Linked DNA regions of Homo sapiens: regions 2 and 3 are each linked to region 1. The links come from fine-mapping of genetic effects on gene expression. A gene starts in region 1. Each other region holds a variant in brackets. All regions are shown on one strand. Distances are from middle to middle.

Evidence for each region.
Region 2: its variant is fine-mapped to the expression of MAVS in whole blood (TOPMed, PIP above 0.99).
Region 3: its variant is fine-mapped to the expression of MAVS in whole blood (INTERVAL, PIP 0.99).

What each region holds. Positions count from the first base shown.
Region 1 is chr20:3,843,775-3,851,819 of GRCh38, reverse strand. It overlaps MAVS (mitochondrial antiviral signaling protein), which reads right to left and starts at 4,986. Exons shown (of 7, transcript NM_020746.5): 1 at 4,917-4,986. RefSeq lists enhancers at 475-976, 6,931-7,070 and silencers at 4,710-5,089, 5,520-5,569.
Region 2 is chr20:3,872,255-3,880,299 of GRCh38, reverse strand. It overlaps MAVS (mitochondrial antiviral signaling protein), which reads right to left. Exons shown (of 7, transcript NM_020746.5): 7 at 4,182-8,045. Among named protein-coding and RNA genes, the nearest start is that of PANK2-AS1, 13 kb to the left of the region's middle. The variant G/T (reference allele first, on the strand shown) is at 4,810.
Region 3 is chr20:4,011,030-4,019,074 of GRCh38, reverse strand. It overlaps RNF24 (ring finger protein 24), which reads left to right and starts at 3,517. Exons shown (of 6, transcript NM_001134337.3): 1 at 3,517-3,638. RefSeq lists enhancers at 1,790-2,391, 2,595-3,527 and a silencer at 3,411-4,010. The variant T/C (reference allele first, on the strand shown) is at 4,004.

The DNA of each region.
Region 1 (8,045 bases):
CCACACCTGGTTAATTTTGTATTTTTAGTAGAGACAGGGTTTCTCCATGTTGGTCAGGCTGGTCTTGAACTCCTGACCTCAGATGATCTGCCTGCCTTGGCCTCCCAAAGCGCTGGGATTACAGGCGTGAGCCACCATGCCCGGCCCACATACATTCTTAAGATAGGAGACTGAGTTCCATGCCTTGAACTCACTGTGTGTCCTGGGCAAGTTATCAGTTTCCAGACTTCCTCACCCTTAAAACGGCTCAGATAGCAGCTTGTTTTGACAGTACGGTAATTCAGCCTTATAAACTTTTTTTTTTTTTTTTTTTTTTGAGACAGAGTCTCCCTGTCGCCCAGGCTGGAGTGCAGTGGTGTGATCTCGGCTCACTGCAGCCTCCATCTCCCACATTCAAGCAATTCTCCTGCCTCAGCCTCCCGAGTAGCTGGGATTACACGTGCCCACCATCATGCCTGGCTAATTTGTTTGTTTGTTGTTGTTGTTGTTTTTGAGAAAGAGTCTCGCTCTGTTGCCCAGGCTGGAGTGCAGTGGCGTAATCTCGGTTCACTGCAACCTCTGCTTCTCGGGTTTAAGCAATTCTCCTACCTCAGCCTCCCGAGTAGCTGGGATTACGGGTACACGCCACCATGCCTGGATAATTTTTATATTTTTAGTAGAGACGGGGTTTTATATGTTTTAATGTTGGCCAGGCCGGTCCTGAACTCCTGACCCCAGGTGATCTGCCTGCCTTGGTCTCCCAAGTTGCTAGGATTACAGGCGCCAGCCAACGCGCCTGGCCAATTTTTGTATTTTTTAGTAGAGACAGGGTTTCACCATGTTGGCCAGGCTGGTCTCGAACTCTTGACCTCAAGTGATCCTCTTGCCTTGGCCTGCACAGTGCTGAGCCACTGTGGCCGGCCTCTAAGCTTAAATTTTTTTTTTTTTTTTTTTTGAGACGGAGTTTCGCTCTGTCACCAAAGCTGGAGTGCTGTGGTGCAATCTCGGCTCACTGCAAGCTCCACCTCCTGGGTTCACACCATTCTCCTGCCTCAGCCTCCCGAGTAGCTGGGACCACAGGCGCCCGCCACCACACCCGGCTAATTTTTTGTATTTTTAGTAGAGATAGGGTTTCACCGTGTTAGCCAGGATGGTCTCAATCTCCTGAACTCGTGATCCGCCTGCCTCGGCCTCCCAAAGTGCTGGGATTACAGGCGTGAGCCACTGCGCCTGGCCTTTTTTTTTTTTTTTGAAATGGAGTTCACTCTTTTTGCCCAGGCTGGAGTACAATGGCGCGATCTCGGCTCACTGCAACCTCTGCCTCCTGGGTTCAAGCGATTCTCCTGCCTCAGCCTCCCAAGTAGCTGGGATTACAGGCATGAGCCACCACGCCCCGCTAATTTTGTATTTTTAGTAGAGACAGGGTTTCACCATGTTCCGGTCTCGAACTCCCGACCTCAGGTGATCCGCTCACCTCGGCCTCCCAAAGTGCTGAGATTTACAGGCGTGAGCCACCGCGCCCAGCAGCTTAAAAAAATTTCTTTTTTTTTTTTTTTTTTTTTTTTTGAGACAGTCTCGCTCCTTCACCCAGGCTGGAGTGCAGTGGTGCAATCTCGGCTCACTGCAAGCTCCGCCTCCCGGGTTCACACCATTCTCCTGCCTCAGCCTCCCAAGTAGCTGGGACTACAGGCGCCTGCTACCACGCTCGGCTAATTTTTTGTATTTTTAGTAGAGACAGGTTTCACCGTGTTAGCCAGGATGGTCTCGATCTCCTGACCTCGTGATCTGCCCGCCTCGGCCTCCCAAAGTGCTGGGATTACAGGCATGAGCCACCGCGCCCAGCCAGCTTAAAAATTTTTAAGTGCCTCAAATATAAGCAATTGCTGCCAGTTGTTTATGTAGGAGTTACCACAATTTGCAGTTATAGATGTATTTGCTCGTTACTTTTCTGCCGCCCCCATCAGGGAGTGCTGCAGGGAATAAAAGAGACAAGGTCTATGCCACATCCAATTTATATTCTAATGGGGTGGGACAAATAACAGATCAGTAAATTAATACCCAAATAAGAGTTCCAGATAGCAATAAAGGCTCTAAAGAAAGTAAAGCAGGTAATGAGACAGAGCCCCTGGAGACAGGCATGCTACTTGAACTAGGGGGTCAAAGAAGCCTTTCTGAACTAGCGTGCAGAACACAGCTGAGCTGTTCTCAGGCTCTGAGAAGATTGGTGTTTTAGGCAGAGAGCATGGTAAATGCAAAAGTCCTAAAACAAGAATGAGCTTGGCATGTTTGAAGAATAGAAAGCAGGTCAGTGTGGTCTAGGTCAAGAAAGCTAGGGATGGCTGGCTGCGTGACTCACGCCTATAATCCCAGCACTTTGGGAGGCCTAGGCGGGTGGATCACCTGAGCTCAGGAGGTTGAGACCAGCCTCGCCAACATGGTGAAACCCTTTCTCTACTAAAAATACAAAAATTAGCATGGTGGTGGGCGCCTGTAATCCCAGCTACTCGGGAGGCTGAGGCAGGAGAATCGCTTGAACCCAGGAGGCAGAGGTTGCAGTGAGCTGAAATCATCCCATTGCACTCCAGCCTGGGTGACAAGATCAAAACTCCATCATAGGAAAAAAAAAAAAAAAAGCAAGCAAGCTAGGGAAAGGGGCAGAGATTGTCAAGGTCAAGGAGGTGGCAGGGGCCACTCATGTAGAGTGCTGTAGGAAAGGACTCTGGGTTTTAGTTGGAGTGAAACAGGGAACCACTGGAAGGTTCCGGCAGGGAAAGAAGAGGATCTGATTTACATTAAAGACTTCTCTGGTGGTTGTGAGGACTTTGGAGGGGCCAGGATGAAAACTGGGAGACCAGTAAGGAGGCCACAGCCCAGGAGACAGGATGACTATGGTCAGGATGGGAACCACAGAGATGGCAGGAGGCAGCCAGATTCCTGGTGTTTTGAGGGTGTAGGAGATAAGGGAGAGAAAAGAAGCATGACTCCTTGGGCACTGGGTGGATGGAAGGTGCCCTTTTACCAGGCCAGAGAAGCCAGGGGAGGAGCAGTGGCTCAGAAGGGACTCCAGAACTCAGTTCGGAACAAGTGAAGTTTGAGATGCTATTGGATTCCAAGTGGGTTGTCAGGGAGGGAAGGAGGCAGGAGAGGACCAAGTGGGCATCAGGCAGGCATGAGACCTCTCTCAGGAGGCAGTGCTGTAGAGCAGACAGCACCTAAAAGCTGTTGGGCCACCAGACCTTCCTCACAGGGGAAGCAGTCCTGTCACTGGCCTCAGAGCCTCACATGCATGAGTTGCTTTGCCAGCCAGCAGGCCCTGCTACATTCCTCGTGGGGCAAGTACTAATGACAGGTCAGGAGAATCAGGAAGGTGAGGCGGGGGTCCTCTGAGCCTTCAAGAAATTAGCAAAGAACAACTCTATGGGAGTTAATAGATCCCTTTCTCGGCCGGGCGCGGTGGCTCACGCCTGGAATCCCAGCACTTTGGGAGGCCGAGGCAGGCAGATCACTTGAGGTCAGGAGTTTGAGACCAGCCTGGCCAACATGGTGAAACCCCGTCTCTACTAAAAATGCAAAAATTAGCCAGGCATGGTGGCACACACCTGTAGTCCCAGCTACTCAGGAGGCTGAGGCAGGAGAATCTCTAGACCCAGGAGGCAGAGGTTGCAGTGAGCCAAGATTGGACCACTGCGCTCCAGCCTGGGCAAGAGAGTGAGACTCCATTTCAAAAAAAAAAAGACCCCTTTCTCCTTCCTTTCTCATGGCATCAGCCAGGTACCAGAAGGCAGTCAGATGAGGCACTCTTCTGCATTCCAGCTTCAGCCACAGATGGAGGGGAAGGGATGATGTGGCCCAAACAAAAGGAAAGGAAGCCCACATTTGTTCACATTTATGGAGGGCCCATTGTAGACAGGCACATCCTAAGGTTCTTTCAGTTAATCCTTCCCCAATCCCGTGACAGGGAAAGTGTTGCCAAGGTGCACAGCTGGCCAGAGGCTAGCACAGGATTTGAACCCAAAACCTGCTGCCTCACTGCAACTGGTCATACACCTTGCAGGGCACAGAGACCCCTGCAGCGAGACCCACACAGCCACCTGCCTTCAAGCCCAAAGAGGACCCAAGGTCACTTGGCGGGAGGGAGGCTGAGGGTGCACTTAGGTGGAAGCAACATTTAGTCCAGACATTAACCCTGCTTTCACATGGCTGCCACAGGTCCCAGGTCGCTGGCTGTCCTCCTAGATATTTTTGAGGCTTCACGGCTTCCATACAGAGAATCCCTTTTTCGTGTTTTTGGTTTGTTTCATGTTTTCTTGGCACTTCCTTCCCAACTGAGAAGGAAGTAGGTGACAGAGTGTTCCCAATACAGCAAAGTTTCCGACCTGACTGTCCAGAGGCTCTGAGTGCATCCCGGAAATAAACACCCACCCTTCCCAAAGGGACAGGCCTCACAGCCTTGGATCGGATTCCTGGGCGCGACCCAGGTCCGCGGAGGGCGGGGAGGCCGTTTTGAGCTGGTGTCGCCGCCGAGAACTGTCCAGACCCAGCGGAGGGCGGCAGCACTCGACCTCTAGGCGCACCCGGTCGAGGCTCGGCCCCACCTTAGCGTCACCCTGGGCCCGCGGGCGGCAGGAGGAGGTCAGCGGCCGCTGCCCGTCCCCTTCTGGCCCTACCTTTCCCCCAGCCTGAGCAGACGCCCAGCGCCACCTACCCCCTTTTCCCCGGATGCTGGATGCGGCGCCTGGAGCCCTCAGTGTTCCCGAAACTCTTGCGACAGGGCCCGCTCTTCCGGATCCCCGCGCGTCCTGTCCCCTCCTGGGCCCCCCGCGCACCCCAGACCCAGGGCGTCCCGGCGGACTCCGTCCTGCCGCTGCAGCCACCTTCCCTAAAGGCGTCCGTGCGTGCTGAGCCGAAAGGACCCAACGCCCGGGAAGCGATCTTACCTCGGGTACCCCCGGCCCTGAGACCTGGCGACCGCCGCCCGGGGCCCAGGACCCTTCCCGCAGCGAGGAGGCGGGGCGGGCAGAGCGCGCGGCCATTGGCCATGTGGAGGGGCGGGGCTACTCGGCCGCGCGTGGTTGGCTGGCGACGCAGGCGGCTGCGCAGCGGGGACGGTCACTGGGCCTTGGTTTGCGGGTCGGGAAGCGCTAGACTGGGCTCGGAGAACCGACCTGATTTTTTGCTGGGGGCGCGCAGTCTCGAGCAACTTCCAGGGGAAGTCCGGTGTCCGGCCAGAAACCAGGCAGGTGGCCGGCCTCGGAGTCATCGGGGGGCTGAGAATTCCATCCCCACGCTTCCCAAGTGAAGCAGCCCCTCCTCCCCCTGGGAACTTTGAGGGGTGAGGGTCTTCGTGTCGTTCTCTCCGGCACCCCCATGGCCTGGCATACAGTTAGTGCCCAATAAACGTTGGGTGCCGCTGAAGTCACAGGGGCAAGGATGCCTATCCTGGAGACGTGCACGCTGGGCCTGTGGGAGTGGGAGCGGGCGGGGGACTGCTGGGTAGGTAGGCGCAAGGCAGGGACGCCAAGGTTGGCTGGCGGGCAGGCTGGGTATGGGTTGGGTGCTGCGTGGGAGAGGCCTCTTACGCCCAAGGGCCTGGGACAGGTACCTCCCGCAGTTCCTGCCATCTGCCTCGCCCTTCCCCTTCTGGGGCAGAGGCCAGCACTTACTGAGCACCTACGATCTTCCAGGCACAGGGTCTTCTATTCTTTTTTTTTTTTTTTTTTTTTGAGACAGAGTCATGCTCTGTCGCCCAGGCTGGAGTACAATGGCGCGATCTCGGCTCACTGCAACCTCCACCTCCTGGGTTCAAGCAATTCTCCTGCCTCAGCCTCCCAAGTAGCTGAGATTACAGGCACATGCCACTGCGCCCGGCTAATTTTTGTATTTTTAGTAGAGACGGAGTTTCACCATGTTGGCCAGGCTGGTCTCAAACTCCTGACCTCAGGTGATCCTCCCACCTCGGCCTCCCAAAGTGCTGGGATTACAGGCGTGAGCCACTACGCCCAGCCTCAAGTGAGGTTTTATTACTGTACTTTATATCCCTGTGAATATTTCACAACCTTCAGCATTTACAAAGTATGCTTAATCACACCTGAACTGTAATAAAACCAGCTCTGCCTAGTTTAGCCAAGAGGGCATAAATGTTGATTAGTTCAAGAATCAATCCTGCCTGCTCCCCACCGGAGCAGCTCTAGCAGCTTCATATCTAATTCTTTCAGGAAGAACATTGAAAGTGTAGGAGCGGGCTTCCAAGTGCAGCTATCACTCCTGTCTTTGCTGGACCTCAAAGAGCATTCAAACAATCCCACTGCCTGACTAGGTGGTTCCCTGCCACCTATCAACAGCTTTTATAAAGATTTAGACAAAGAAGAACACAACAACATGCTTATGGTATTCCTATCAAAAGCTCATGATCTGAAACTAATCATAGGGAAACAGTAAGCAAACCCAAAACGAGAGACATTTGACAGCTGTCCTATCCAATACAATGGCTACTAGCCACATGTAGCTATTTTAATTAAAATTAAATAATACTTAGAAGCCAGTTCCTGAGACCCACGAGCCACATTTCTCTTTTTTTTTTTTTTTTTTTTTTTTGAAACAGAATCTCACTCTTTCACCCAGGCTGGAGTGCAGTGGCCCAATCTCGGCTCACTGCAACCTCCGCCTCCCGGGTTCAAGTGATTCTCCTGCCTCAGCCTCACGAGTAGCTGGGACTACAGGCGCATGTCACCACGCCCGGCCAATTTTTGTATTTTTAGTAGAGACGAGGTTTCACCATATGGGCCAGGCAGGTCTCAAACTCCTGACCTCAAGTGATCCACCCACCTTGGCCTCCCAAAGTGCTGGGATTACAGGCGTGAGCCACTGCACCTGGCCCATGAGCCACATTTCAAATGCTATTTTCATGTAGCTAATGGCTTCATACTCGGTGACACAGAGCATTTCTATTTTTTTTGTTTGTTTTGTTTTGAGACAGAGTTTCACTCTTGTTGTTGAGGTTGGAGTACAATGGCGTGATCTCGGCTCACCACAACCTCTGCCTCCCAGGTTCAAGCGATTCTCCTGCCTCAGCCTCCCGAGTAGCTGGGATTATAGGCATGCACCACCATGCCCAGCTAATTTTGCATTTTTAGTAGACACGGGGTTTCTCCACCTTGGCCAGGTTGGTCTCAAACTCCCGACCTCAGGTGATCTGCCTGCCTCAGCCTCCCAAAGTTCTGGGATTACAGGTGTGAGCCACAGCGTCAGGCCCAAACAGAGCATTTCTATCATCACTGAAAGTTCTATTGGATAGCACTGCTCTGCAGAATAACTCTTCAAAAATTTCAAGGTCAGGAAAAACAAGGAGACTGAGAGACTGCTCCAGAGAAAAGGACACCAAAGTGACATGACAACTGAATGCAATATGGGAACCTGGGTTGGATCCTGAAACAGAAAAAGGACTTCAGGTGAAATCCAAATAAGGCTTTTGGATCAGTTAACAATAATCTAGCTGGGCATGGTGGCTCACGCCTCTAATTCCAGCACTTTGGGACGCCGAGGTGGGTGGATCACCTGAGGTCAGGAGTTTGAAACCAGCCTGGACAACATGGTGAAACCCTGTCTCTACTAAAAATACAAAAATCAGCCAGGCATGGTGGTGGGCACCTGCAATCCCAGCTACTCAGGAGGCTGAGGTAGGAGAATCGCTTGAACCCGGGAGGCAGAGGCGGCAGTGAGCCGAGATCGCACCATTGCACTCCAGCTTGGGCAACAACAGTGAAACTCTGTCTCAAATTAACAACAACAACAACAATCTGTCAGTGTTAGGATCATTGTACTGGGTTATGTAAGATGTAAACATTTGCATTATTTTTGCAACTATGTTGTAAATCTGAAATTATTTCAAAAATATAAAGTAAAATAAATCATCTTTTGACCCTATCTGGCTATTTATATTATCTTTTATTTCTTATTGCATCCCACCCTATTTCATGGGTGTAATTCATTGATCACTGTCCATTTATTAGGAGAAGAGCAAGTCCAGAGAGTGATCTATGCTCTAGGCTGCCCCCAGTGAGGGCCTT
Region 2 (8,045 bases), 28 kb before region 1:
AGTCTTTTTTTTTTTTTTTGAGACGGAGTCTTGCTCTTTCACCCAAACTGGAGTGCAGTGGCACAATCTCGGCTCAATACAAGCTCCGCCTCCTGGGTTCATGCCATTCTCCTGCCTCAGCCTCCTGAGTAGCTGGGACTACAGGCACCCGCCACCATGCCCAGCTAATTTTTGTTTGTTTGTTTGTTTTTAGTAGAGACAGGGTTTCACCGTGTTAGCCAGGATGGTCTCGATCTCCTGACCTTGTGATCCACCCGCCTCGGCCTCCCAAAGTGCTGAGATTACAGGCGTGAGCCACCGTGCCCAGCTGGAACCAAGAGTCTTAATTAAACAATCATGATGGAGACCAAGCCCACATTTTTCAGGTCACCTAATCCTGGCCTCTCCATGATCCAGTAACCTGAGTTACAGCTTTCCTACCATAAGGACTTAGAGCTAATTTCTTAAAGCCTGTAGTGGAGGCTGAGGCGAGAGGATTGATTGACACAAGGAGTTTGAGTCCAGCCTAGGCAACATACCAAGACCCAGTCTCTTAAGTAAATTTTTTAAAAAATCAATTTAGTTTCCAAATGAGATCAACATATTAACATATTATATTTGATTGCTTTGCCTTTTTTTTTTTTTTTTGAGGTGGAGTTTCACTCTTGTTGCTCAGGCCGAAGTACAATGGCACAATCTCAGCTCACCACAACTTCCGCCTCCCAGGTTCAAGCGATTCTTCTGCCTCAGCCTCCTGAGTAGCTGAGATTACAGGCATGCACCACCACACCTGGCTAATTTTGTATTTTTATTACAGATGGGTTTCTCCATGTTGGCCAGGCTGATCTCGAACTCCCGACCTCAGGTGATCCGCCTGCCTCAGCCTCCCAAAGTGCTGGGATTACAGGCATGAGCCACCGCACCTGGCCCAGGTTTGATTTCTTTAAAAGAATTCTTCACAGGTGCTATTTACCTTTTTAAACATTATTTTTCTATTTTTGTTTTGTTTTTGAGACGGGGTCTCACCCTGTCACCCAAGCAAGAGTGCAGTGGTGCAGTCACAGCTTACTGCAGCCTCAAACCCCTGGGTTCAAGCAATTCTCCCACTTCAGCCTCCCAAGTACCTGGAGGTACAGGTGTGCACCACCACGCCCAGCTAATTTTTTTTTTTTTTTTTTTTTTAGAGACAAGGGTCTCACTATGTTGCCCAGGCTGGTCTCAAACTCCTGGCCTCAAGCGATCCTCCCACCTTGGCCTCCCAAAGTGGTTCCCACTTATAAGTGAAAACATTACAGGTGTGAGCCACCATGTCTCACTATTTACTTTTTATTCATCTCATCAAGAGAAGAGAAATTCATAACATTAACTACTTACGTTAGGGGCTACAGCCCCTACCGTAATTTTCTAATCAGGTAGTTTCTTCTATGCTTGGTTAACTGGAATTTGTGTGTGTGTGTGTGTGTGTGTGTGTGTGTGTGTGTGTGACAGAGTCTCACTCTGTCACCCAGGCTGGAGTGCAGTGACACGACCTCAGCTCACCGCAACTTCCTCCTCCCAGGTTCAAGCGATTCTCCTGCCCCGGCTTCCCGAGTAGCTGGGATTACGGCTGTGCACCACGACACCCAGCTACTTTTCTTTTGTATTTTTAGTAGAGATGGGGTTTCAACATGTTGGCCAGTCTAGTCTCGAAATCCTGACCTCAAGTGATCCACCTGCCTGGCCTCCCAAAGTGCTGGGATTATAGGTGTGAGCCACCGCACCCAGCCTAACTGGAATATTTCTATAAAGAATCTTCCCTCATCAACTCTTTGTTATCCTGAAGTACCTCAACCTCAGCCTCCAGAGGAGCTGGAACTACTCAAATAGAAAAGGCAGGATCAATTCTTTCCCTTTACTGACCAGTTTTCAGAATGAGTTGGTTTCCTGGGGCATCCTCTAGAGGTCAACAATGAATTCTTTTTAGTATTATCATGAACTGGTGGCTTTTTTTTTTTTTTTTTGAGACGGTCTCACTCTGTTGCCCAGGCTGGAGTGCAGTGGTGCGATCTCGGCTCACTGCAACCTCCGCCTTCTGGGTTCAAGCGATTCTCCTGCCTCAGCCTCCTGAGTAACTGGGACTACAGGCAAGTGCCACCACGCCCAGCTAATTTTTTCTATTTTAGCAGAGAGGAGGTTTCACCATGTTGCCCAGGGTGGTCTCGAACTCCTGAGCTCATAGAATCCACCCACTTTGGCTTCTCAAAGTGCTGGGATTACAGGCGTGCGCCACCATGCCTGGTGTTTTTTTTTTTTTTTTTTTTTTTTTTGAGACGGAGTCTCACACTGTTGCCGGGGCTGGTGTGCACTGGCGTGATCTCGGCTCGCCACAACCTCCACCTCCCGGGTTCAAGCGATTCTCCTTCCTCAGCCCCCTGAGTAGCTGGGACTACAGGCGCGTGCCACCACGTCTAGCTTATTTTTGTTTTGTTTTGTTTTGTTTTTTTGAGGCAGAGTCTCTGTCGCCCAGGCTGGAGTGCAGTGACGCTATGTCGGCTCACTGCAAGCTCCGCCTCCCAGGTTCACGCCATTCTCCTGCCTCAGCCTCCCGAGTAGCTGGGACTACAGGCTACCTGCCACTATGCCTGGCTAATTTTTTTTTTTTTTTTTTTTTTTTTTTTAGTAGAGTCGGGGTTTCACCGTGTTAGCCAGGATGGTCTCAATCTCCTGACCTGGTGATCCGCCCACCTCAGCCTCCTAAAGTGCTGGGATTACAGGCATGAGCCACCGCACCCGGACTGTATTTTTTTTTTTAGTAGAGACGGGGTTTCACTATGTTGGCCAGGCTGGTCTCAAACTCCTGACCTCGTGATCCACCTGCCTTGGCCTCCCAAAGCACTGGGATTACAGGCGTGAGCCACCGCGCCTGGCCAACTCATGGATTTTAAAAGCCTATTTGATGAGTTTCAGTCCACTGGAGTCAGGTCTTTTTTTTTTTTTTTTTGGAAGTGCTGTGATCGTGACTCACTGCAACCTCTGCCTCCCAGGTTCAAGCGATTCTCCTGCCTCAGCCTCCCGAGTAGCTGGGACTACAGGCGCGTACCACCATGGCCAGCTAATTTTTTTGTATTTTTAGTAGAGACGGGGTTTCCCCATGTTGGCCAGGATGGTGTCGATCTCCTGACATAATCCACCTGCCCCGGCCTCCCAAAGTGCTGGGATTACAGGCATGAGCCACCACCCAGCCCAAAGATTCTATATTATATATACAGTTTTCCACTTTTTTTTTCCTCTTAGCAAAACATCATGGAGTTCACTCCATAGCAGTATAGAGATACTCATTTCTATTCACAGCTGCATAGCACTCCAATGTAGATATACCTTGGTTTATTGCCAATGTTCTGTAGATGGACATTGTCTGAGTTATTTCCAGTCTTTTGCTATTTACACAGTGGGCTATAATGACTAGCCTTGGACATATATCTTTATTTTTGCCAATGTTATCTTTGGCTTAGACTACTAGAAATGGAATTGCTGGGTCAAAAAACACATGCATATGTCATTTTGTAGGACAGAATCAAATTCCCCTCCTGAAGAGGCAGCTGCTATAATGGTGCTTCCAGTGGTTCCTACTTCTGGGTAAATTGCCCCTTGACTGCAATTTACAGAAGTGATGGGAGTGGATGCAGAGGCTCCTGCCTGTAATCCTAGCACTTTGGGAGGCTGAGCCAGGAGGATCACTTGAGCCCAGCAGTCTGAGACTAACATAGGCAACACAGTGAGACCGCATCTCTACTAAAAATCATGAAAGTTAGCCAGGCATGGTAGCGTGTGCCTCTGGTCCCAGCAACTCAGGAGGCTGAGGTGGGAGGATTGCTTGAGCCCAGGAGTTTGAGGCTGCAGTGAGACATTCTACTCCACTCTACTCCAACCTGGGCGATAGAGCATGCCCTTGTCTTAAAAAAAAAAAAAAAAAAAAAAAACTGCTGGGATGTCACTTTCAAGATTAAGTACCAAAGGACTGTGACTTCTGTTTTGCTCTCATACATTCTCTGTCTGAGAGCTGGGAGCTTGTCTTTAAGTAGAAACCCACCCATCCCCAGGGAGAAGGCAGGAGGGAAAAGGAGGAGAGGTCACAGACAAGCCCCCTGACTCTGTTGATCTTCACTGCAGTAGCTTCTCATTACAAGCAGGCATCTGGCCATTGTAGACCATTATAACTGTAGTTCTAGAAGTAATAATAGCAGATTTATTGTACAGAAGTGTCCACGGGCTCACAATTCTAAGGACATCATCATGACAGCAAGTAGGAAAAAAAATTAAAGTAATTCTTTCACCAATTACCAGTTTATCTCTTCTCCAATTCCTTTGGATACGCCTCCTGCAAGAAGCCGATTTCCAGCTGTATGTGATAATGAAAGGGTTTTTCTTTCTTATGTTAAATACAAGCGAAGTGATTAACTGGAAGATAGCGTCTGATTGCGAGGAAATCAGTGATTCAGATGGTGTGGGAATGGCACCTGGGGATGGGGGAGGCAGGACGGAGATGGAGGAAGCTGGTGCAGCCTAGCCTGCCTTGTGCCAAGGACACCCAAGGGCAGAGGGACTGAGCTCTGGGGGAGGACAGATTTGACATAACTGGTCCAGCCTCACAGTTTACAGGTCCTGGAGGGTGAGGAAAGTGGGAGCTGGCTGCGGATGCAGGACAAGAACCCAGGGCTTCCCTTCATTTTGCCTGCCCTGCCACTTCCTCCCGCCACTTCCACCCTTCCTACCCCTCCACCTCCCTTGTGCCTTTCACTGCCTTTTACAGCATTTACATTACACTTCAGTAAAAAGTTGTGGTTTTGGCTG[G/T]TTTTTTTTTTTTTTAAATAAAAACAGCACTGAAGAAGTAGAAGGAAGATATTCAGGGTTTTTATTTTTATTTTTTGAGTCTGGGTCTCGCTCTGTCACCCAGGCTGGAGTACAGTGGTGAGATCATAGCTTACTGTAGCCTCGACCTCCCGGGCTCAAAGATCCTCACACCTCAGCCTTCCAAGTAGTTGGGACTACAGGCATATATCATCATGCCTGGCTAAATTAACTATTTTATTTTAAGAGATGTGGTCTAGCTATGTTACCCAGGCTGGTCTCGAACTCCTGGCTTCTAGCAATCCTCCCACCTCAGTCTCCTGAATCACTGGGATTACAGGCTGGGGCCATCATGCCCAGCTCTAGGTTTTTAAAATGTAGGCAAGGAGGTCAGCATTTACACAAAAGCAGGGTTTGATCTTAGGAAGCTTAATAAAGAGAGGGGTCTAATCAAGGTTTCCTGTAGGATCTGGGCTTTAAGTTAGGCCTTAAAGAACGAAGAATGTTTGTGGGTGTAGTAAGCAATGACTTGGAGCAGAGCCCTCTAGCCATTGGGCTCACCCTCACAGGCAGGCGCCACTGACCCTAGGGGGGTGTAGGCAGCTGGAGGAAGTACTGTGTGTCCCCCATTCCAGCGATGGTGGCCCCTCTCAGAGTCAATACCCTTCCTTCCAAGAGACTGAACATACAACTGGACAATGGCCAGGCCACATATGACAATAGACTCTGGCCAGAAACCCATGACCAGCCTGGGAAGCCAAGGAAGCCAAACCACAGCCTCAGCAGCAATCGGACCCAGAACAGTCTGAACTTAGTGGCTGCCAGCTTCTTCCCAATCCCCAGCCACCACACCCCCTCTTCCAACTCCAGACCAACCAGAGAAAGCCAAATATACCCCCCCAACCAACCAAAGATGCCCCTCCAGTTAGTCCGCTCTGTCCCCATGCCAACAATCTCCAATCACAGCACACCCAGAGCCTTCCCTTTTTTTCCACTATAACATTTCACAGTCCCTGCCTGCCTTTGACCCCTGCCAAATACAAGCAATCATGGCTGACTCCTTTGCAAACTTTGACCAAATGGCCTCTCTGCTCTTGTTTAGGTGGTTTTTATTTCCACATCTCCAACAGGGAGTCTGGAAACAAACTGACAATACTCGTGAAATCAACACCCAGATGAGGTAGACCAGCACTCCAGGATGCCCCTCCCCAGTATCCCTCCCCTGTTAACTGTTCCCCTGGCTTCTAACACCATGGATCAGTTTTGCTTATTTCTGTACTTTTTGTAGGAAGAGAATCATACAATGAATTCTCTCTTGATGATGAGGACTCTGACCTCTTTTGCTTGACCTCATGTCTGTGAAATTTATCCATGTTGCTGTGCATAGCGATATTTTCATTCATATTCGTTGCTGTGCAGTAGTATTCGACCCTGTGACTTCACTGTAGCTTCAACTGTGGATGGACATTTGGGTTGGTGGATGGACATTTGGGTTGTTTCAGGTTTGGGGCTACAGTCAGCGTGTGGTTAGAAACATTCTTGCCAATGTCTCGGTGGACATAGCTTTCTGTGGTGTACATACCCAGGAGTGGAACTGCTGGATCAGTTTATACGTATGTTCGGCTTTTGGTAGATACTGCCAGTTTTCCAACAGGGTCACACCAGCTTGGTCCATTCAGGTTACAATGAAACACCTTAGCCTGGGTAATTTGTAAACAACAAAAAATTATTTCTCACAGTTCTAGAGGCTGGGAAGTCCAAGATCAAGGTGCCAGCAGATCCAGTGTCCAGGGCGGGCTCTCTGCTTCAGAGATACGGTGCCTTCTCACTGCATCCACACATGGTAGAAGGGACAGAAGGGCTCCCTCAAGCCTGTTTTATAAGGTGCTAACCCCATTCATGATCTCCACCCTCATGACCTAACCACCTCCCACAGGCCCCACATCTTTATTATTTTTTTGAGATGGAGTCTCGCTCTGTCACCCAGGCTGGAGTGCAGTGGCACGATCTCGGCTCACTGAAATCTCCACCTACTGGGTTCAAGCTATTCTCCTGTCTCAGCCTCCCGAGTGGCTGAAATTACAGATGTACGCCATCACACCTGGCTAATTTTTGTATTTTTAGTACAGATGGGGTTTCACCATGTTGGCCAGGCTGATCTCAGACTCCTGGCTTCAAGTGATCTGCCCCCTGCCAGCATCCCAAAGTGCTGGGATTACAGTCATGAGCCACCATACCCAGCCCCAAAGGCCCCACCTCTTAATGCCATTGCTTTGGGGGTTAGGATTCAACATATGAATTCAAAGGGTACACCTACATTCACAACACAGCACTGACTTAGATTCCCTGCAAAACCCATGAGAGTTTCATTTCCTCCATATTTTCATCAGCATTTCATCTTGTCAGATTTACTCTCTATAGGTTCTAAGTATTATTCCCCCTCTGCTGATTTACTTATTATAAACAGTACATAACTGATCAGATAAACACTTGTCCCTTTGCCACCCCTAATGCCTGCCCCCACTTCATATTCCAGGAACACTCCATTAAACCACCCCCTACTGTACTGGTGGGTGGTGGGAGGGGGCTCATCGGGTGGGGTCTTTGCCGTATTATTCTGTGTCACTGAGGCCTATCACAGTGCTCTGCACATGTAGGTGCAAATATCTGTTGTATGATTACATAAAAGAATGATGTGAAAGCCTATTTGTCTGTACCACAATCATGAACGTCCCCAACCACTTGAAGGCACTCATAGTGTCTTAATCATCTTAGGCCTTCGATCTGGCATAGGTAACTCCTTTAATAAACAATGTCTGCTAAACCAAATGGCTTCCTGAGGCCTGGCATTTTAGGCTGTGTCCCCTGCCCCACCTCGCCCAGCCTGGGGCATTGAGCCTGGCTGGGCACACACGTGATAGTTGTAATCATATTGTCATAACATCCCTGAGACTACATTAATTACATATTGAGTGTTATAGTACTATTATAGCAGGTGGCAGATGTTGGCACACTGGGCAGAGATGTGTTGGTGTGAAAAACCTCTATGTACTTTAAAGACAGGGTCTCCCTCTGTTGCCTAGGCTGAAGTGCAGTGGTGCCATCATAGCTCACTGTAACTTCAAACTCCTGTGCTCAAGTGATCCTCCCACCTCAGCCTCCTGAGTAGCTGGAACTTGAGGCACATACCACCACACCCAGCTAATTTTTAAATTTTTTGTAGAGATAGGGTCTAGCTG
Region 3 (8,045 bases), 170 kb before region 1:
AAAGAGGGGCATCCTCCGAAACTCCAAACAGTGAAGTCTTCCCTACCCTACCCCTACCCATCATGTGGAACAAGGAAAATGTTAGCTGCGAAGCCACCACTTCAAGTCCTAGCTGCCTGCTGTTTTGAGGTACCCACCTAAACCCTCCAGAGAAAGAATTGCCCACCCACACTCTCCCATCACTTGCATTTTGCCTAGACCAGTGGGGGCTGGGAGTGGTGGGGGGATGAGTAGACTCATGTGCATCACTAAGCAAAGAGGATCAGGGACTAGCAGGTGAACCTCCAGCCGGAAGCACCAGGAGGACAAAAACTGTGATTTCTTCCTTAAGGGGAACACGGGACAACCCGCTACAGGGGACAGAAGAGCAGGATCCTGCCATATGTTGTAGAAACTGTGAGGCCAGATTCCACCTGTCCAGTCCCAAAGGAAAACTTTCTCCTTGACCCTAAAAACCAGTTGGGCCAGTTGATGACACAGCAAAATTTTAATAAGATGAGTCTCCCTGAAAACAGCAACTGGACACGGCCCCTCCTCCTTCCGTTCATTCTCTCATTCTCTTTCCCACTCACCCCTAATTTTTTCAAGAACAAAAGACATGAAATGAGCCACTCCATCCTCTACCCTACAGCCTGATTGGACTAGTGAATTACTAGCCAAGCTTTCTAAACAAACAAACAAAACAGGTTTCCAAACGCAGGGCAGAGGAAGGAAGCCAAAATAAGGAAGAAGAAAGAAAAGGAGCTCAGCCTTTCCTTCTCCTGTGGAGCCTCCCCAGCCCACCAGGGAACATCACCTCCACCAATAGCCACAGCAGACCCACTATGTGCCAGTCACATATTAGGTCCTGGGAGATACTGATCCTGCTGATGAAGGACTCACATGCTGGTGTGGTAAGAAAATATGCAAATGAGCAGGGACCTTGGAGGGTGCCTAGTGCTGAGAGGGAAGTGGGTACAGGGCACAGGTGGGGATTCTCAAGGAAAGTCTGTCAATAAGTGGGGGCAGAAAAAAATACTTTATCAAAAATGACTTTGTAAATACTTTACTTTTTTTTAGAGCAGTTTTAAGTTTGCCACAAAAGTGAGAGGAATGTGCAGAGTTCCCAACTAGCCCTTCCCCCCTACACATACATAGCCCCCCCATTATAAACATTCTCCCACGGGAGCATTTATTACTATTGTTGGACCTACATTGGCACATCATTATCACCCAAAATCCATGTTTACATTAGAGTTTGCTGCTGGTATTATTCATTCTATGGATTTAGACAAATGTGTCATGACAGGTATCCACCATTATGGTATCATACACAGAGTATTTTCACTGCCCTAAAAAGCATCTGTGGATTTTCAGAGAAAAGAGCAACTTTTGCATGCTAGGTAAGTATTGCTTTCCTAGTAGGGGAACAGCAGGAAACAGCAGTCACCTTGGTGACTACTGAGGTGAAACACCATGGTGCTGTTCTGTAAATGGCTGGAAAATAAGGCTCAAGGAGCCAGATGGGGCAGGGAAAAAGAAAAAGACAGAAACACAGGCAGATTTGAATACCATGAGAATCGATTTGCATGAGAATGGATTGAGACTTCTGCAACAGCCCAGGGGAGAGATGAGGGGGCTGATTTAGAACAGTGAGAGGTTTGAGCAAAGCAAAGTTGAAAAGACCCTCCAGGTAACTGCTATGATTGACAGCAAGGAGGGCAGTGTTCCCCCAGCACAGCCCTGGCACAGGCAGCTCTAGAGGAAGCCTGGGTCTCCCACTCCCTTCCTTTTGCCACAGTCTCCCTAGCACATGCCTCCACCCTTCTCTCACTTTGGGGGACTGTGACCATTGGGTGGCAGGTGACTTCTTGAGAAATTCACTAATGTTTCCCTCTTTACTTCCTCCCTGCCTTGGTGGTTAATGGTTTGCCAAAGCAGAAGGAACATGCCTCTAGGCGCTTGCCATGATGACTTTTGCTTCCCAAAGTTAAGCTACTGAGCTGTTTATGGTTTATGTGATGGGGCCTGAGAGATTAGGAGAAGGAAGGAGAACTTCTGGGGGACACATGGAGACTGAGGAAGAGGGGGCAATCATTTTTGCAAGCTCTGAGCTGCAGCGCACACACAGTCAGCTGTGGAGCTTCACAGCCATTCCCTCTGCAGGCTCCTAGCCTCTCCAGAAACTTCCGTACCCCAGGAGTGGCAGACACAAGGCGATGGGAACAAGAGAGTATCTGCAGAATACACTGCCTGCTAAAGACAAGAGAGGACTCCCCAGATCCTTGCCTTGGTATTGCAGGAAGAGCTCAGCCTCCCAAAATCGGAGGTCAATTTATTGCCTGCCCTGTAGAATGGGAGCCGGAGGTTGAGGAGTGGATGTAAATAAAGGAATGCACTGTTTCTTGCACACACCTCTCTCCACTATCTGGGCAGAGTCTAGGTCTCATCCATCACCAAGGTTCTAGCACTCAGCTGAGAGGCTGCAGCAGGAGGGGCAGATGGAGGAGGGTGCGGTGCATACCATCTCCCCATCAAACCAATGGGCACCACGTGACCATTCTTGTGTCTCTGGGGACTGTCAATCTGCATGCTAGGAAAGGGGTGGCATTCCAATCTTTCATTTTTTTGTGTGTGAGACGGAGTCTTGCTCTGTCACCCAGGCTGGAGTGCAATGGTGCGATCTTGGCTCACTGCAACCTCCGCTCCCCGGGTTCAAGAGATTTTCCTGCCTTAGCCTCCCGAGTAGCTGGGATTACAGGCATGAGCCACCACACCCAGCTAATTTTGTATTTTTAGTAGAGACAGAGTTTCTCTATGTTGGTCAGGCTGGTCTGGAACTCCTGACCTCAGGTGATCCACCCGCCTTGGCCTCCCAAAGTGTTGGGATTACAGGCGTGAGCCACTGCGCCCGGCCCCATGCTTTCACTTTTAAAAATGCTTGTAGGGCACGCAAAAATACTAAACGGTCGATGGAGAAGGTCTGTCTGGAGTAGTTGTTTTTTTTTTTTTTTTTTGAGACAGAGTCTCGCTCTGTCGCCCAGGCTGGTGTGCAGTGGCACGATCTCGGCTCACTGCAAGCTCCGCCTCCCAGGTTCAGGCGATTCTCCTGCCTCAGCCTCCCAAGTAGCTGGGACTACAGGCGCCCGCCACCACACCCGGCTAATTTAATTTTTTGTATTTTTAGTAGAGACGGGGTTTCATCGCGTTAGCCAAGATGGTCTCGATCTCCTGACCTCGTGATCTGCCCGCCTCAGCCTCCCAAAGTGCTGGGATTACAGGCGTGAGCCACCTCGCCCGGCCTGTCTGGCGTAGTTCTAACCAGGAACAGAGCCAGCGGCCAGGGCCGCACCAGGCCTGGCCAGGGAGCGCCGCGCCTGCGCACTGCAGACTCTGAAGCCGCCGAGCCCTCCGCCGAGGTGGGTGGGGAAACTGCCCGGGCATCCGGGTCCCTCACCCCGCCCCCGCTGCATGAATGAGAGGCGCGGCGCCCGCCCCTCCCCCGGCGGGCCCGCCCCTCGCGAGGGGCCGCCGGGCGCAGTCAGCCGCCGCCACCTCCGCCGCGCTCTGTCCGGACGGACGCTCGCCGCCCGCAGCCTGCCGCCCGCCGCAGGGCGCTGACGGTCCCGCACGTCTGCCGCTGCCACCGGCGCGCCCGAGTAAGTGAGCGAGCGAGGGCGGGAGCGCCGCGGCCGCCGCCCCCGGGCTGGGGTTTGGGGGACCGAGCCGCTCCGGGTTCGGGATGCTGAGGAGACCGCGGGCCCGCGCCAGCCTCCCACACACACACACTCTCCCGGCGCCTCGGCCGGCCGGGCGCGGTGTGCAGGGGTGAGGCGGTGTCTCCAGGCTGAGGAGGGACGCGGAGGAGGGTCCGGCGCGGCCCCGGGACTGGAGGGTGAGTCCCTCACAAAGGGCGGAGCGGGGCTGTCACCTGGAGATCACGGAGGGAAGGTGCGTGGGCCCCCGCACGTCCTGCTCGCCCAAGCCCTGGCATCGGGTCCCCGGGCGTGGGAGGCGGCTGGGA[T/C]GAGCTGGGAGGCTAGGAGGAGGATGGCGAGGACGCTGCCCCCGCGTTGGCGGTGGGCGCGCGCCTTGGGGGGTGCGGCGTGGCAGTGTTTTCCTGGTCCCCGTCCACTCCTCCCCTTTCTTTGTGGCGCTTGTCTCGTGCCCCGTTGTCACAGTGTGCATGGCAGTGGTCGGGGTGGAGACCTCTTCCCTCGGCTTACTCATTAATGAAAGTCACCATCTGTGGGCAGGGGGCGTGTGTGGTTCCACAGGCCGGAGAATTAAGGACCCTCCTTTGTTTCTGGAGACCTAATGATGTGTGTGTGTGTGTGTGTGTGTGTGTGTGTGTGTGTGCGCATTCAAGTGAAAGGGACATCTATGAAATGAGAGAATCAGAGATTGTCAAAAAGGGTATGAGGAAAAGGGGAGGGGATATAACTTCATCACACCTTTACCCAATTCTTTACCTGATGTTATTTCAAACAGTTTTTTCTCACTGTAAAACCAGTGGGTTTTATTCATTGGAAATGTGCATCTAAATTCTCATATATCTGTGTTTCTAGAATACTTTGCCTTTTTGGGCTTAGTTAATGGTAAGATTCTCATGTCTGTCTACATAGGAATACTCCACCGTACAGGACACTGCTTTCTGGGTTTAGTTCATTGATAATTTGTCCGAATGCTCATAAACATGTCTATAGGAATACTCCAATATATCTAGGACACAGTTTTCTCCGCTCCTGAATACAGGCAGATTTTGTTTCTTTCTGCCTCCCTGTGTTAATGAGAAGGTAGTCCAGCAGGTTCTCTCTACCTCCTTGCTTTTTTTTCCCCTTAATGCTTTGGCAGAGGGTTTTATTGCATATTACCCTGGCATGCGCCCTTGCTTTGATGTGAATTTTCCTGTGTTCTGTTGTCTGGTTGTACAGCCCAGCTCAATGGCTCCTCTTACAGGACTACTGGAAAACAGAACACCTTTTTTCATTGTCCTCATCTCCAGAGAGAGAAGGAAGCGCTGTAGGTTCCCACAAACGTTGACTCTGTCAGACTGCCTGCCTGACTTTGTTGTGTTGGTAAAGTTATGAAGAGTTGCAGTTGTTGTAGACCAATTAAAAAGAGGCTATTGGGATAACACCAGCTCTTCCTTGCTATTTTGGTTTTAAAACAAATGATATGAATTTTGCAAGATAGTTGTTAACTCTGGTTGCATGATGATTTTCAGTTTCTTTTTACCCATATACTTTTACAGGGTGTTGGGAAATTAGCCACTCATTTACAAGAAACACACCTCCAAGGTATTTTTATTATGGGTCGGGTGCGGTGGCTCACACCTGTAATCCCAGCACTTTGGGGGGCCGAGGTGGGTGGATCACCAGAGGTCAGAAGTTTGAGACCAGCCTGGCCAACATGGTGAAACCCTGTCTCTACTAAAAAAATACAAAAAATTAGCCGGGCATGGTGGCGAGCGCCTGTAATTCCAGCTACTCGGGAGGCTGAGGCAGGAGAATCGCTTGAACTCCCGGAGGCGGAGGTTGCAGTGAGCCTAGATCGCGCCATTGCATTCCAGCCTGGGCAACAAGAGCGAAACTCCGTCTGAAAAAAAAGCTATTTTTATTATGATCTTTGGATTCAAAATAGCGGTTTTAAAAAATTAAGAGGCGCTTATATTGGATGATATGAATAATTGTATGGGTTCTGTTTTCTTTAAGATTCTCTGTAATATTTTTAAAAATCACATGTATTTTAATTCCTAGTAGTTTTCAGTGGAAAATGAAATGTAAACTAAGCAGTCTTCCACAGCATCTGTTTATGTATATTCCCTCTGTTTAAAACATTTGCTTTTAATTTGAAGGGGAAATTTTCCATGGTCAGTTCAGGATACATTATTCTTAGTAAAATTCTTACCACGTTCAAATTCTTTTTTGTAAGAGTAAAAAAAAATTAATGAAAGTTGATTTTTCAATTGGGGATGTTTTGGTTTTAATGCATGATTTAAATAAAATCTTAATATCAATTAATTTAATTCAGATAAGTTAATTTAAAACAAGGCTTTTATGAAGGAAAAATGAAGCAGAAAAAAAAAAACAAGAGCTTTACTAACTAAAGTCACTAATGTTGAAGTAACCCAGTACATTTATAAACTGCCTGTCTTGACTGCATAAGACATTTTTTAGGAGTCTCCTTAAAACAAACCGTAAGGGGAAGTCTTAGATAAACAGAGTAGCATAACCGGAATTATCACTGAAATAAGCTTGCACAGTATCGCAATTTCATGGAAGTTTAATTTTGCAAGAGTGACTTAGCTATTTTTAATATCAACAAAGGAACCTAAACACAGCCTGGCCTTGTTATTCAGCATTCTGTTAATCAAAGTATTTGCCAACCCATAGTTTAGCATTCTGTAGTATGATGATTGAAGAAAAAATCTAAACTAACTTTTAGATCCTTAAAATAGATAAAATAATGTTAAGTGCTGTTTTAATAGTAAATATTTATTCATTAGAATAGTAATATTATGTTAGTGATGGTAAGAGCATAGATGGTAACACTTTGTTAACTAGGATCTATTATCCTCCCAGTAATGTCTCATAATAAAAAGTAATTTATTTTTCCATTGAGCATTCTCTATCAATAATTGCTTTTTTGTTTTTTGGGTGTTTTGTTGTTTTTTTTTTTTGAGATGGAGTCTCACCCTGTCCCCTAGGCTGGAGTGCAGTGGCGTGATCTCGGCTGACTGCAGCCTCCGTCTCCCAGGTTCAAGTGATTCTCATGCCTCAGCTTCCCGAATAGCTGGGAATACAGGCACTGGCCACCACGCCTGGCTAATTTTTTTTTGTATTTTTAGTAGAGACGGAGTTTTGCCATGTTGGCCAGACTGGTCTTGAGCTCCTGGCCTCAAGCCATCTGCCTGCCTTAGCCTCCCAAAGTGCTGTGATTATAGGTGTGAGCCACCGCGCCCGGCCAATAATTGTTTATTGTTTTAAATGGGAGTTTATTCTAAGATCAGTAATAATGCTATTACAATGTGTTAGCTTGAATCATATGAAATTGCCATGTTGAGACTGAGAAAAAATCAAAATCAGCAGTCTTATATATTATATAGTTAAACCACTCTCAACTCTTACTGGTTTCTTTTGGTATTTACCTTTATACTTATTTCATTTTTAATGTTTATACTGCTATTTCTTAGCTCTTCACTTTTGGATATTCTCTGTGGACTTCTATTTTGGAAGTTGAAGACTTAACTGTCTCACATAACTATCCTTCCATTTCCCACTCATACTTGACAGTTAGGTCGGTATTCAGGATTTATATGACTGACAGTGTACCTGTTATTCACAGTTGAGCCACGTAGGGTGCTATTACTGTGTTTTCTTCTTGAACAACTTTTGTTGCTCCTGAATTAAATAATTGCCTCTTTTGTTTGTTTGGTTTTCATTTGCTGAGTTTTCTTTGTATCAGTCACTAATTCATTCAAACTCTATGACAAAACTGATTATCTTTGAATATTCTCAGGTAGTCACTCACTTTCATATCTTTTCCCCAGGAGATGGTCCTGCTGGAGCCCCCTCTCTCCTACTCCAGTCTGGAATTGTTTGCTCCCTGGACTACTGCATAGCCATCATCCTGGGACTTCCCTTTGTCATCATCTTGGGAATTCCCTTTGCCTTCCTCCTGTGTTAGGTCTTCTATTTCCTGGACCCTGTGTCTTCCTTATTCTTGAGTAGCTTCCTGAGAAAGGGTACATACAAAATCTGAAATTCCTTCCTGAATTCAGAAGTTACATGTCTGGAAATGCCTTCATTTTACCTTCACTCTTGAATGGTAGTTTAGCTTGGTGTTAAAATCTGGATTGAAAATTAATGTGACTGTTTTGAAGACATTGTTCCATTAGCTTCCAGTGTCACTATTGAGAAGTCCAATGTCATTTTAATCCTCATTCCCTTTTTCTTCCCACTCTGAAAGATTTTAGGATCTTCAGTTTATCCCTGGTGTTCCTGACATTTCATGATGTACCTTGGAATAGATATTTTTCTTTACTTTTGCTTGTGGGGTAGATTGTA